3 separate regions of the Homo sapiens genome follow, and all the other regions are linked to region 1. Evidence: fine-mapped expression QTL. A gene starts in region 1. Each other region holds a variant in brackets. All regions are shown on one strand. Distances are between the middles of the regions.

The links.
Region 2: its variant is fine-mapped to the expression of BUB3 in esophagus mucosa (GTEx, PIP above 0.99).
Region 3: its variant is fine-mapped to the expression of BUB3 in monocytes after interferon gamma (Fairfax 2014, PIP 0.95).

What each region holds. Positions count from the first base shown.
Region 1 is chr10:123,152,598-123,156,824 of GRCh38, reverse strand. BUB3 (BUB3 mitotic checkpoint protein) reads right to left here and starts at 2,423. Exons shown (of 8, transcript NM_004725.4): 1 at 2,340-2,423; 2 at 1,713-1,907; 3 at 1,098-1,167. The coding sequence starts at 1,907. RefSeq lists enhancers at 1,773-1,842, 2,573-2,732, 2,569-2,738, 2,458-2,752 and a cis regulatory region at 2,653.
Region 2 is chr10:122,645,256-122,649,483 of GRCh38, reverse strand. No RefSeq gene overlaps it. Among named protein-coding and RNA genes, the nearest start is that of SPADH, 25 kb to the left of the region's middle. RefSeq lists an enhancer at 1,857-2,151. The variant T/C (reference allele first, on the strand shown) is at 1,769.
Region 3 is chr10:123,521,747-123,525,974 of GRCh38, reverse strand. LINC02641 (long intergenic non-protein coding RNA 2641) reads right to left here. Exons shown (of 12, transcript XR_007062326.1): 9 at 1,571-2,123. Among named protein-coding and RNA genes, the nearest start is that of GPR26, 140 kb to the left of the region's middle. The variant C/AC (reference allele first, on the strand shown) is at 2,140.

The DNA of each region.
Region 1 (4,227 bases):
TGGTGAGCCAAGATCACACCACTGCACTCCAGCCTGGTCAACAGAGTGAGACTCTAGCTCAAAAAAAAAAACAAGAAAGAAAAAGAAAGGATTTCATGAAGTTTGGCAGTGACTTTCATAGAATAAACAGCTAATTCTCTATGTAACACTGAAAATCGAGACGTTTGCTTTTCAGTGTTTCTCCCTACCCCTACAAGTTTCTGAACAAATAGAACCTAGACTTACAAGCTTACTTATTACACAGGGTAAGCTACTGGCAAACAAAACCCAATACCTGCAGTATAAGTTACAGAAGAAGTAGCTTTCATGCAAAAGCCTCTTCTAATTGGGTGCTTAGTTTTTTGACAAAATGTGGCCATCCTCCATCCATTCTCCTGTTGCTCAACTCATCTTCTCTCTAGTCATATCTCTGTACCCTCCTATCTCCTTAGAATACCTATGTCTGATGAATACACATGCAAACAAATGTTCAGCTAGAGAGCTCTATGCATTTGGGCTCCAGTCCAATCTCTAACACTGTGCCAATGTCACCAAAAAAATTTGAGTAAGTCATTTCATATCTGGATCTCTAAGAAATTACTTAACCGAAAGGAAATGTATCATCTAGTTACTCATTCAAAAAATGCAACGGAAACATATTTTGCTAAATACCTAAAACAAACACAATTAATATAGACATGATTGCCTATTTTTTGTCAGGTTTTAAATCTACCTTTAGCTTCTGAAAACTAAATTAGCTTCTAAAAACTGAACTCTCAAAACATCAGCATTGTAGTGGAAAATCCTAATGAAACGCTGGCCAGTCTGGGATCCAGCCCACTTCTAAGGACAAAATAAAGGCCAAATACTTGAGTGTCAATTTATGTAAACACTGACAATGGCGACCATAACTGGCTTTACTGCAAAAATACATGCATAATATTCTGTAATCAGTAACTTAATGGTTATCATTTAAATTAAAAAAATCCTAAATTCAAGCCACCTGTACTTAAGCAACTTAGTAACTAAGCAATTTAGGAACCACTCTTCCTACATAAACATTTATACTTAAGAACACTAGCCAAGAAAACAAACTGGTAAAGATATGGTCACATTACCTTGATCAGTGTTCAAATCATGCATTTTCAATTGATGATCTAGTCCTCCACTCCAGGCATGCGTTGGATCCTATAAAATAGTTTTGAACCGTTTAAAAACTAGAACTTTTGAAAGGGTTTCAACATTCTTATTTCTACAAGCAAGTGTTCAGTTTATGCTCGGGATATGCACTGGGCTCAACTATTCATGGTAAACAAACCAAAAAACAGCATAAAAAAGCAAGTGGTCACTAAACTCCTGTGTCTGGAAATTAAAGGAGGGCTGCTTTATCCTAGCCAACACGCTAGCTGAGGGTAAACATACATTTCCCCTAAACGGTTCCTTTCAATACGGCAGCCAAAACAGTATTGTTGCAAATATAATGATCGTATTTTCAGAAAGTTTAGAGTTACTCCACAAGCGTGTAACAGAAAAGGGGAGACGGAGTTTCCAATGTCTGCATGTCTCCAACCCAAAACGGTACAGGTTCAAGGCAGATGCTCCTGAAAAGCTAAAGAACTGTCCAAATAACCCCACCGACAGACGCCTCTACCCAACACTGGAAAAGAAACGCTCCTCACGTGGAGAATCGTTAACACAGTAAGAGGGCAGGAGCAGGGCGGGAGGGCACCTACGTAGAAGGCGCAGTCCAGGACGGCGCCGGTGTGCTGGTACTTGAGCCGCATGGAGTTGGCCGGCACATCGTAGAGACGCACGGACGTGTCCCAGGAGGAGACAAGCAGGAACTGGGAGGTGTTGGGGCTGAACTTCACGGAGGAGATGCCATCCTCGGGTGGCTGGTTCAGCTTGAACTCGTTAGAACCGGTCATCTGCAGAACAGGCGCCCAGAGTCCCCAGGGGTCCCGCGGGCTGGGGCTGCGCACTGACAGCCTGGCACTGGGGGTCCCCCCAGAGGGAGGGGCCGAGAGGACGACCGCGAGGAGACTCTGCGCTTGCGCCTGCGCCGAGCACTCGCCCGCCAAGGTCCGGACTCGCCCCATCATCCGGCCCCCGCCGCGCCCAAACCGGCCCAGCCCGCACCGCCGTCCCCCTAAACCCAGCCCGGCCCACAGCGATGCCCGGACCCCAGACTGTTCCCTTTCCCCTCTCCCGGGGTCCCGTCGCCCCGGGCACTCCTAAAAATAAAGGGAAAACAACAGAAACGAAACGGGATCCCCTGCGAATCGAACGGCCCTGCCAGTTGCGGACCCGGGAAGTCCCTGGAGAGCCCGCTCCCGCACACCGTCGCCTCGCCTCCCTACCTTGGGCTCCCCTCAGAAGCAACGTTTCCACTACTCGCCACTCGCTGCGGCCGCCGCCGCCTCCTTGCTTCCCTCAGAACACTCGCAGGCTAGGCGAAGGAGGCGGAGAGGAAGCTCCAGTGTAGACCTGCCATTGGCTGATTTCAAACGCCAACGTCTCAGTCTAGGGGGCCGATTGGTCCGCTCAGCTGCCCAGCATCGGTCAACCCAGTCATCCTGTTCCGGCTCAAAGGGAAACCGCTGCTTTTCCGATCACGTGGGCTCATTTTACCACCGCGCTGGGGCATCAGCGTTCGAGCTGGACGCGTGGAAACTACACCTCCCAAGGAGCATCGCGCCAAGGCTCTGTTCATGCCCTCTCCCGCCTGCGTATGGCATTCTGGGAAATGTAGTTTTCTAGGGGCTGACGCTCTGCCCGCCCTCTTCATAGAAAGCGGGAAAGATCTTTACAGCTCTGTCCATGGCGCCCTCCCCTTGAAGTTAGTCTCTGAAACACAAGAATCCCATTTTGGGCAATACTTATATAGTCCTAAAGTTGTCTCCCTATCCCTGGGCGTGCACACGCCCGTGAAGCTAACCAAAAGTTGATGTAGAGGAGGAAATATTTGCTCTATCAACTGCATTATTTTGCCTTGATTTTTTTTTTCTCATTTCTTGGGAATTTCCACCTATAAACCAGGGTCTCCCATTTCCCATTGTCTCAAGTTCTGCTGAAGAAACCCATTCATATTTATATTATGCTTTATCTCTCCACCCCATCTTTCCACAAACATTTATTGAGCCTCCACTGGCGCCAGGCCTGGTGAGAGGCTCTGGAAAGATGCATGTAATCAGACCAGCCTTTGCCCTTCAGGAACCCCCCTTCAGAAGGGTGAACAGCCTGGGAGACAGTACTCTGCAATGTGTTAAAGCTCCCACCACTTCTTTTAGAGCTCTTTTTTGAAGGGTCCTGAAACGACAGCTACAAGCCTCTCCCCTTCCACTCTGTCCTGCCACTCCCCAAAGTTGCAGGCTCAGTGTGCTCCATTTGCTGTTTTCTAGAATCCTCTAGAAATGAGGATCAAGAAGGTTGCTTGAGTATGAGAAATTATTTTATCTCCATGAAAGAAAAGCAATACTTAATCAGTAGAATGAAGTGACTGAGTTATTCTTGAATGTCAAAGGCTCACTGAAAAATTTCAATTTAATCCATGCTTTAACCGCTTTTTCACTGCCTTTTGTAAAAGAAAAATATATATCGTTTTATTTGATTTTGTGTGAAGTGAGAGAAAATTGTGGGGTTAAAGTGATTAACTTTTAAGGGACATTAATGAGAAAGTGTTGATGATCTTTATGCATTCACACACCCTGAATTGGATGCACCTCTTTCTGTGATTCCTGACACAAGAAACACACATACAACAACAACCTTTCTGCCTACTGCATTGATGACATTACTGCTGAAAGACTCTTGCCCTCCTTCCTTGCCAGTCCTGGTACTTGGTTCTCTATCTCTTCTCTTTCCACAAGTTAATGGCTGAATTCAAAATTTTGAAATGCAGTTCCTTACTTCCATTCTAACTTTAGCTAAATAATTTTACCTCCTGACTTATCTGGTTCCTTCTCCCAGTTGTTTATTTAATTATATTATTGTTCCAAGATTCTGAGCATGAATTACCCACTAATAAAATCTAAGTGTATTTCATTATCCAGTGTGTGTATGATTCAGGTCCCTCTGGGCATGCAGTTGCAGCCCGACTCGATTTGAGTTTTAAGAAACGTCAATCTTTTAAATCCAGTTTAGAGGCTGAAAGGAGGCTGATGATTTTGCTGATTATTCAAATGAATTGATAGTCTTGAGACAGGAAATCTGGCAACAATGGAGTCCTGAACATTTAAATCCAAATGC
Region 2 (4,228 bases), 510 kb after region 1:
GCATTTCACAGACACAGGTTTCCCGAGAGGACCTTCTCCCTCCAGTCAGTGCACACCTGAGTGGCCTTGCCAAGCACTCGGGACACTAAGTACTCCAGCCAACACAGGCAATGGGAAGAGATGCTGAGGTCAAAGTTTCATCCCCTACAGGAAACGACCATTGGCTGGGGCTGTCCCTGATTCCCACACACCAGAAGCCATTCAGGTGCCATCAAACCTGCAGAGGATAGAGCCCCTGCCCAGGGCAGAACCCCTTACTAGCCACTGCAGGGATTTGGATGCCAGGAACAGGGCTGGAGGGGACAAGATCTCAAGGGGCTGCTGAATGCCACCTTCAGCCTGTGGTAGGGACCAGGCAGAAAGGGGAGCTACCATCCACTCTGTTGTCAGACAGTAGATCGGATTCTGTCCCCTTAAAGTAATGGAAAGGAGCCAGGACAGGCTTTCACAGGAGTCCTTTATTAGAGCTGAAAACTGTGGAACCCCTTCCTGTAATGGACAACCACGGGCACTCACAGTAAACACAGTAACAAGTTCTTCAGGAATAAAATAGCTCCAAGGTTGTTCTGCAGCGCCCTCTGGCACTGGCAGGTGGGATAACAGGAGGATGGTGAGATGCTGTGGTTCGAAGGGGCTGGAGGGCAGCCTCTGTCCCTACAAGGTCACAGGAGACAGCTCAAAACAGGTGCCATGTGGCCCGGCCTTGTGTTCTCTTGGCCCCTGGTTGTCAGTCACTCTGCTGAAGGTGGAGCCTGGAGCAGGATCACCGGGCTATGAGCAGGTACTGGAGGTGCGGAGAACTTGGAGGAGCCACCACAGGTCAAGTGAGTAGTCCCGTGGGGCCAGCTGGGGTGTGGGTGTGGTGTAGACATCACAACCCTCCTTTAAGCCCTCCTTTTGCACCTGGTACCACATCTTACATAGGAGCTGCAGACAGGAGTGTGTCTGATGCAGTTCTCTGTGCAAACTCAATGTGAGGCCAGGCCTCCTGGGCTCCTGGGCTCCTGGTGCCTTGGGGATGATGGAACAGGGAGGAGGGAACCTAGGACCAGAAGTCAGTGACCCCGACTCAGACCCCAACTCTGCCACTCGCTACCTGAATCCTGTGCAGTTCTGTGCTGACTTGCCTCTCTCAGCCTCAGTTTCCATCCCTGCCAGGTGAGAATAATACCTGGCCACATGGAGGATTAGAGGATTATGTCCAAGGTGCCAGGCTGGCAGAAGATGCTTAATCAGTGTTTCCTCCATGGCATGTTCTTATGGATGGCAGAGGCTGGGGCAAATATGAATCAGCAGAAATGAGGCACTTTAGGTCAGTGGGATTTTGATACGGTCTTTTGGGACTTGGAAAGTAGATCTTTCAGGAACACTCAGGGCAAGCCTGCTGAGAACCCCGCACCAGGGTCCCCCTCATCCTCACAGCAGGGACCCATAGTCTCCACTGCTCCTTCTTAAGCACAGGGCACAACCTGGACTCTCTCAGAGGGATTTAAGGAGTCCTAAACCAGCAGCTCTCAATCTTGGAACAACCTGAGTCTGGTGGGTCACCAATGTCCAGGCCTACCCTCTGATTAGATTCTGATCTAACTGGCTTGGGTGCAGCCTGGCAGCAGCAGGTTCAAAAGCCCCCGGGCCATTCTCACGTGCAGTAGAGTTGAGCACCCTTGCCTCAAACCACAGTCTCAGTTGCTGGGAATCACAGCCACTTGGTGTCAGCCCAATCCTCCCTGAGTGTGGAGATGTGGTGTGGATGGGGAGGATGGGTCCC[T/C]GCTCCCAAGCAAGCCCACTTCTCTGTGTCCCCTGTGACTGGACCCTCAGTCACACTCTGACAGCTTTAGTCCAGAGCCCCTGTCACCGGTGGCCCTGTCTTCTGCTCTACCTTTCACCTGGACCTCACTGCCTCTTGCTACCAAACTCATCTGTCCCTACTAGCCACTCTCCTGGCTGGGCCCTGCTGATAAAGGGGCCATTACCTCCTTCCTTGAGAGGCTGCCAAGTGGCTAACACTGTGGTGGTTATCTGTGAAGAAGCACTGGCTACTGGGGCTATTTTTAAGGAGAGGGGACACTTCAGGAGGTGGAAATGTTTCCTGTGGAAATAAATTTCCCCTTATAATGGTGACCCCTGCATGACCCCTCTTTGTATCCACAGGTTCAAGTACAGAGCCTGGCTTGGGGCTGGCGCTCATGGGGACCACTCAGGGCAAGCCTGCTGAGCCCCCAGCCCCAGGGTCCCCCTCATCCTCACAGCAGGGACCCACAGCCTCCACTGCTCCTTCTCAAGCACAGGGTACAACTTAGACATTCATGAATGAGTGAATGAACGAATGAATGAATGAATGAATGAATGAACGAACGAATGAATGGATGGAGTTGGGATTCCATGTTGGGTTCCCAGCCTCTGAACTTTTTTGAATTCTCGGATGTCTGACTTGCCACTTTGTTACTCTGATTGATGTGTACCTCAAACCCGCACACCACTCCAGCTTCCTGCTGCTTCTGCATCTGCTCAGATCCAGTCCTGGGCTGGTGCCTGCATTCCACTGCATTGACATTGCTTTTCAGGGCAGACTCATGGTCACAGGGGAACCCTTAAGGCTTTCCTTAACTGCCCCAGCCTGGGAGGTTAAGGGTGAGTGTTGGGGGTGATGGCAAGGAGAATGGAAACCAACAAGAGACAGTCCCTGGGGCCCCCTAGCTCCTCTGACTCCTGGTAGGGCTCAGGACGCACTCTGAATCCCACGGAGGCTCATGGCGTCTCACCACAGCTGCCGGTGGTGGGCAGCTCTTGGGCAGCCCTAGTCAGAGCTGGCAGCTATGGCCAAGTCTCTGCTGGAATTCTCTGTCCCCTTGTCCTGGGGTTTCCCCTGTAGCCATTGCCCTGCTGGGGTCTCATGCAGCTCAACTCACACATCCAGAGTTAGGCTGTCTTAGCTGTCCCCTCTTGGGACAGGGGTCCTGAGATTGGCTTCATGGGGCAAACACTGGCATTGCCAGGGCAGTACACAAAAGCTCCCATTCCTGCCAAGCCTGACCTAGGAGCCCTGAGCCTGATATCTCTCTGATTTTCTAGGCAAATGTACTGCTTCCTTGGAACCCAGCTCATCCCTTTGTTTCTTCTGAGCTCCTTGGGTCACCTGTCAATCTCCTTCTCTCTGGAGACCTCATGCAAACAGGACTCCCTTCCTAAGGGCCCTAAGGAGTTTGCTTCTTTCCCTGAACCGCCCCAGCCCATAGTTCTGGAGATGAAGTGTCAAAAACCAAAAGAGGCAGATCCCTAGAGAAATGGAGGCAATCATCTTTAATTTTCAATCACAGCCACTGAAACTTACAATGCATTTAGCATTCTTGTCTTTCTCCAGGCTGCATCCTGCATATCCTGCTTTGGGAAGAACCAACACTCCAAGGACACTGGGAAGACACACGAGTTGCCCCTTCTCATTCTGTATGACAACCACCCCACCTGTCTGCTTAATTTGAAAGGATCTAGTTCTTAGGAGAAACGAAGGCAACAGTGGCCAAATTGACACTTACTCTGAAAAAGGTTCTTTATTCAGCTGGCTCTACCCTAAGGAAAGGCTGAGATTTATGCTACAGGCCTAAGAAGCGAGCTTATAAAAGGTCAGAAAAGAGGCCGGGTACAGTGGCTCACACCTGTAATCCCGGCACTTTGGGAGGCCTAGGCAGGCAGATCACTTGAAGTCAGGAGTTTGAGACCAGCCTGGCCAACATGATGAAACCCCGTCTCTACTAAAAATACAAAACTTAGCTGGGCATGGTCTAGCCTGTCTGTAATCTTAGCTACTAGGGAGGCTGAGGCAGAAGAATCGCTTGAACCCAGGAGACGGAGGTTGCAGTGAGTTGAGATTGTGTCACTGCACTCAAGCCTGGGCAACAAAGCAAGACACTGTCTCAAAAAAAAAAAAAAAAAGGCTCAGAAATTCCACCTAGAGAAAGCTCTGCTGTTACTAATGTTTGGCTTAGAGTTGCAGGTGAGGCTTTAGACGTTAGCACCTGTTTACCTTTGACATTTTGACCCAGCACTGAGCCTTCGGATCTGGGGAAAACCTCGCTCCACCTTTCTTCACCCCACCTCTACCCACCCCATCTTTCTTCACCCCACCTCCACCCACCCCACCATACACCTGTGCCAAGCTAAATGGAGTTCAGGTGCTGCTGGGCGCCAAGCTCTGCACCCTTGTTTCTTCCATCCTCTCTCGGGTGCCTGG
Region 3 (4,228 bases), 370 kb before region 1:
AGCCTCTCTAGGCATTTGCATTCTACATTCCATATGAATTATAGATCAAGGGCACTTCCAAGCTCCCTGGGAGAGAGCCTGCATCATGCAGACTGGGGATCCACTGTACTGCCCATCACATTCATTGCCTGGCTCATGACAGACACACAGGAAATATTTAGCATGTTGAGTGGACTTTTCACACAAGTAGAATCTCTATTTTCTTAGGGTTTCTGGGTATATGGTTTATGAAACTATATGTCTACACTGGGGTCTGCATGACATATTTAATCCTTAGTAGGACACATATCAATGTGATATCTAAGGACTATATAATACCCTGATTCAACTTTGGGGTTTTAATAGAGATTTCTAGAAAAAAGAGTTCTCATTGAGGCTTTGAGTGTGACATGATTTCTGAAGACATATGTAAACAAATCCTGGGATATTAAATTCTGAAACAGAGTTCAATCCTAAAGGCCCAATGTGACCACTACATTGAAGAATAAAAAAATCTCTCCATCTCCATCTCTGGCATCAGAGGACCCAATCACAGCTTATTACCTGGTGAAGCCACCAATCTCCAGCTGGTTTCCTGTAACTCATGTTTTTCCTTGTGGAAAATCATCATCCCCACCATCTTTACCATCATCAACCAAGTCCTTGCCATGTGCCAGGCATGGAGCTAAGCACTGTTGAGACATTATATCATTTGGTCCTCCTAGTAGCCTTCTAAAGTGAATACCATCGTGAGTCCCATTTTAAGGATAAAGAGGCTGGGCACGGTCACTCATGCCTGTAATCCCAGCACTTTGGGAGGCTGAGGCAGGCGGATCACTTGAGATCAGGAGTTTGAGATCAGCCTGGCCAACACAGTGAAACCCTGTTTCTACTAAAAATACAAAAATTAGCCTGGCATGGTACTGTGCACCTGTAGTCCCAGCTACTTGGGAGGCTGAGGCAGGAGAATCACTTGAACTCAGGAGGCAGACATTGTAGTGAGCTGCGATCGCACCACTGCACTCCAGCCTGGGTGACAAAGTGAGACCCCATTTCAAAATAATAACAATAATAATAATAATAATTTAAAAAAGGATAAGGAAGTAGGCAAAGCAAATTGCCTAGTTACACCCTTGGAAAAGTGGAACAGCTAGGGATCAAAGCCAAGACTACTAGAGCTGAGAACTAAACAGACTCCCTGAGATGGCAGAAACACAGCAGTTCCTAAGTGATGAGCCGGGATTCTTACCCTCAGAGTCCCTAAATAACCAATAAACACCAAATGAATAATGATTCTGTCACACACTTTTTTGCTAATTCTTTTTTTAAAAAAATCTTTGGTTTTTTGTTTGTTTGTTTTTGAGGCAAGGTCTCACTCTGTCACCCAGGCTGGAGTGCAGTGGTGAGATCTTGGCTCAACACAACCACCACCTCCCAGCCTCAAGCGATCTTCCCACTTCAACCTCCTGAGTACCTGGGACTACAGGTGCAAGCCACCACCAACCCTGGCTAATTTTTGTATTTTTTTGTAGAGACGGGATTTCGCCAAGCTTTGGGAACCTGGAGCTTTTATAATAGACAATAAGCCTACCTGAACTTTGACTAGGTGGACATCAAAAGTAGGAAAAAAATCTCAGATGCTCCACAGTTCTTGAACATTTCCTCCATCCTGGAACAGCAGAAACTCCCCTGGACTGAAAGTTCCAATAAGCTCTTTCTGGGAGGTGTCACCCATGGCAACGACAGCTGTGAGGTCATTGCCTCTGACACTTCCTTCACCACTAGTCATCCCAAGAGGAAAACAATAAGAGGGAGGAAAAGAAACTCTTACAGGTGGAAGAATAAAAAATAAAAATAATGCTGTTGATGGTGATGAGGAGGATGAGGATAATGATGTCAACAAGGAAGAGAACAGCAAGGTGGATGATGATGATGACAAAGGGCTGATGATGACAGTGATGAGGCTGATGATGACGTTGATGAGGCTGATGATGACACTGATGAGGTTGATGATGATGACAATAAGGCTGAGGATGTCGATGAGGATTATAGTGATGACAATAATTTCCAGACCAGCCACCATTTGCTGAGCTCTTCCTGCCTGGTGAGCACACACGTTGTTTCACTGAATATTCATAATATGCCTGCAAGGTAAAAAAA[C/AC]TCCATATTCTCTCACTTCCTTTAAAAATCTTTATCCTACTCTGTCTTTTTAAACTGCCACTCTTTGCCAATTACAATATGTAATCTCGACCCCAACAACACATTCCTAGGCCCCTTACCTTGGTCTACTTTTTCCCCACTACACTGATCACCTCCTAACATGCTATGTGGCTTACTATGTTTATTGTTGATGGTCTCTCTCTCCCAGCTGGAATGGAAGCTCCATGAGAACCTGGATTTTTGTCTGTTTTATTCACTGTTGCATGCCAAATATGCAAAAGGGTACCTGGTCATAACAGACCTTCAACAAATATTAAATACATGAATGAACTTAGCTTTATGTGTTTTGGGGAAATGTCACAACCTCCCCGGACTTTAGATTCCATGGCCTTAAAATGAGAGCTTGGTGGCGTCTATGGCTTGACCCATTCCTGAAATCCTGGAGCTCCACAGATGTCTGTGCATTAGTCTTCCTATATCATTACATGACAGAGTCATCATTTTACTTTTGTCAACTGTTTCAGGTTGGATTTTATTCCTTAATCAGTCACTCGTTCGTTTAACCAATTAAGCATTTTCGAGTTCTTCTGGACCTAAGCACTGTCAGTGAGCAGTTCCAGCAGACACCAGGAGCACGTGGGGTGGAAGTGGTGCTTGTCATAATGAGGTTCTGAAATTCTGACAGGTGAGAGAGAGCTGCCACCTCGCCAGCTGGCTTCAGCTGTGCAGGAAGTGTAGAGCCAGGAGGCCCTCAGAACCTTTTGCTTCCATGGATTTGAGGTACTCGAGAGTCACGGGGCCTGGGTTTTGTGGGGTCTTTGGCTCTGGGTTCTCTTTCTTTCTCAATCCCCCACTTTTATTGCCCCCTACTGACACACATTCATCTTACTTTTAAGCAGATGTCTATCTCATTGACACACTGAATTTGCATATGGTTGCACACTGGAGCAGAAGGAGGTGAGGGTTTAGGGTTCTGGTGTGCAGTAGGATATTCAATTCAACCGTCACATAGATAAAGAAACTCCTGAATGCACGGCTCTGTTCTGAGTGTTGGGAATACAAAGATGGCTCAAGGTGCAGTATCAGCCATCACAGGCTCGTAGTGGGAGGCAGGTTTATAAGTAAAGAATCCACTTTGGGAGCCTGAGACGGGAGGATCATGAGGTCAGGAGATAGAGACCATACTAGCTAACATGGTGAAACCCCGTCTCTACTAAAAATACAAAAAAATTAGCTGGGCGTGGTGGCGGGTCCTGTAGTCCCAGCTACTCAGGAGGCTGAGGCAGGAGAATGGCGTGAACCCAGGAGGTGGAGCTTGCAGTGAGCCGAGATAGCACCACTGCACTCCAGCCTGAGCAACACAGCGAGACTCCGTCTCAAAAAAATAAAATAAAATAAAAAACAAGTAAAGAATCACAAAACAACACCGTGAGTGCTTGATCTTGCAGGGGGTAATGTCATTCAGAGAAGAGAGACAGCCAGGGAGCATGCTTCTGCCAGGACATCCACCATAGTCCACAAGAAGGGATTTTCAAGATAGGTCTCAAAAAAGTGATTCGCAGATTGCCAAGTGGGGAAGTGTGGTGGGGAGGACAAAAAGTGGTCCGATAAAAGGAGTCAGTGGCTGTGAAGGCCTGGAGAGAGGAGGGCTTGCCAGGCTCAGAAGATATGCACTTGGTGTGGAGCTGGAGCACAGGGGAGGTAAGAAGGAGGCTCCATCCCTGGGATTCAGCCCAGCATGTGTCACATAATGGTGCCTAATAAATATTGATTGAAAGAGTAGATGAAGAAATAAAATGGGAAGAAAATACCTGCCACACAGAAGAGTTGCAAATTTTAAGACCTTATCTTGTTTACCCATCAGGCTCCTCTGTTGAGAATTCAGGTCCCTTGAGACAAAGTCTGGGTCATGCTCTCTACAGAGCCTCAGTTTCCAGCTCAGGCCTGGCAACCTGGGCCCTTGCACAGAAGACACAGGGAGGGTGACGTGTCTCCCTCTGTGCCTGTCCATGCAAAGCTACCCTTAGCAGGCCTGGGGGCTTTCAGGGGCCTGTGGAGCAGGGAGTAATGCCATTCAGTGAAGAGACGC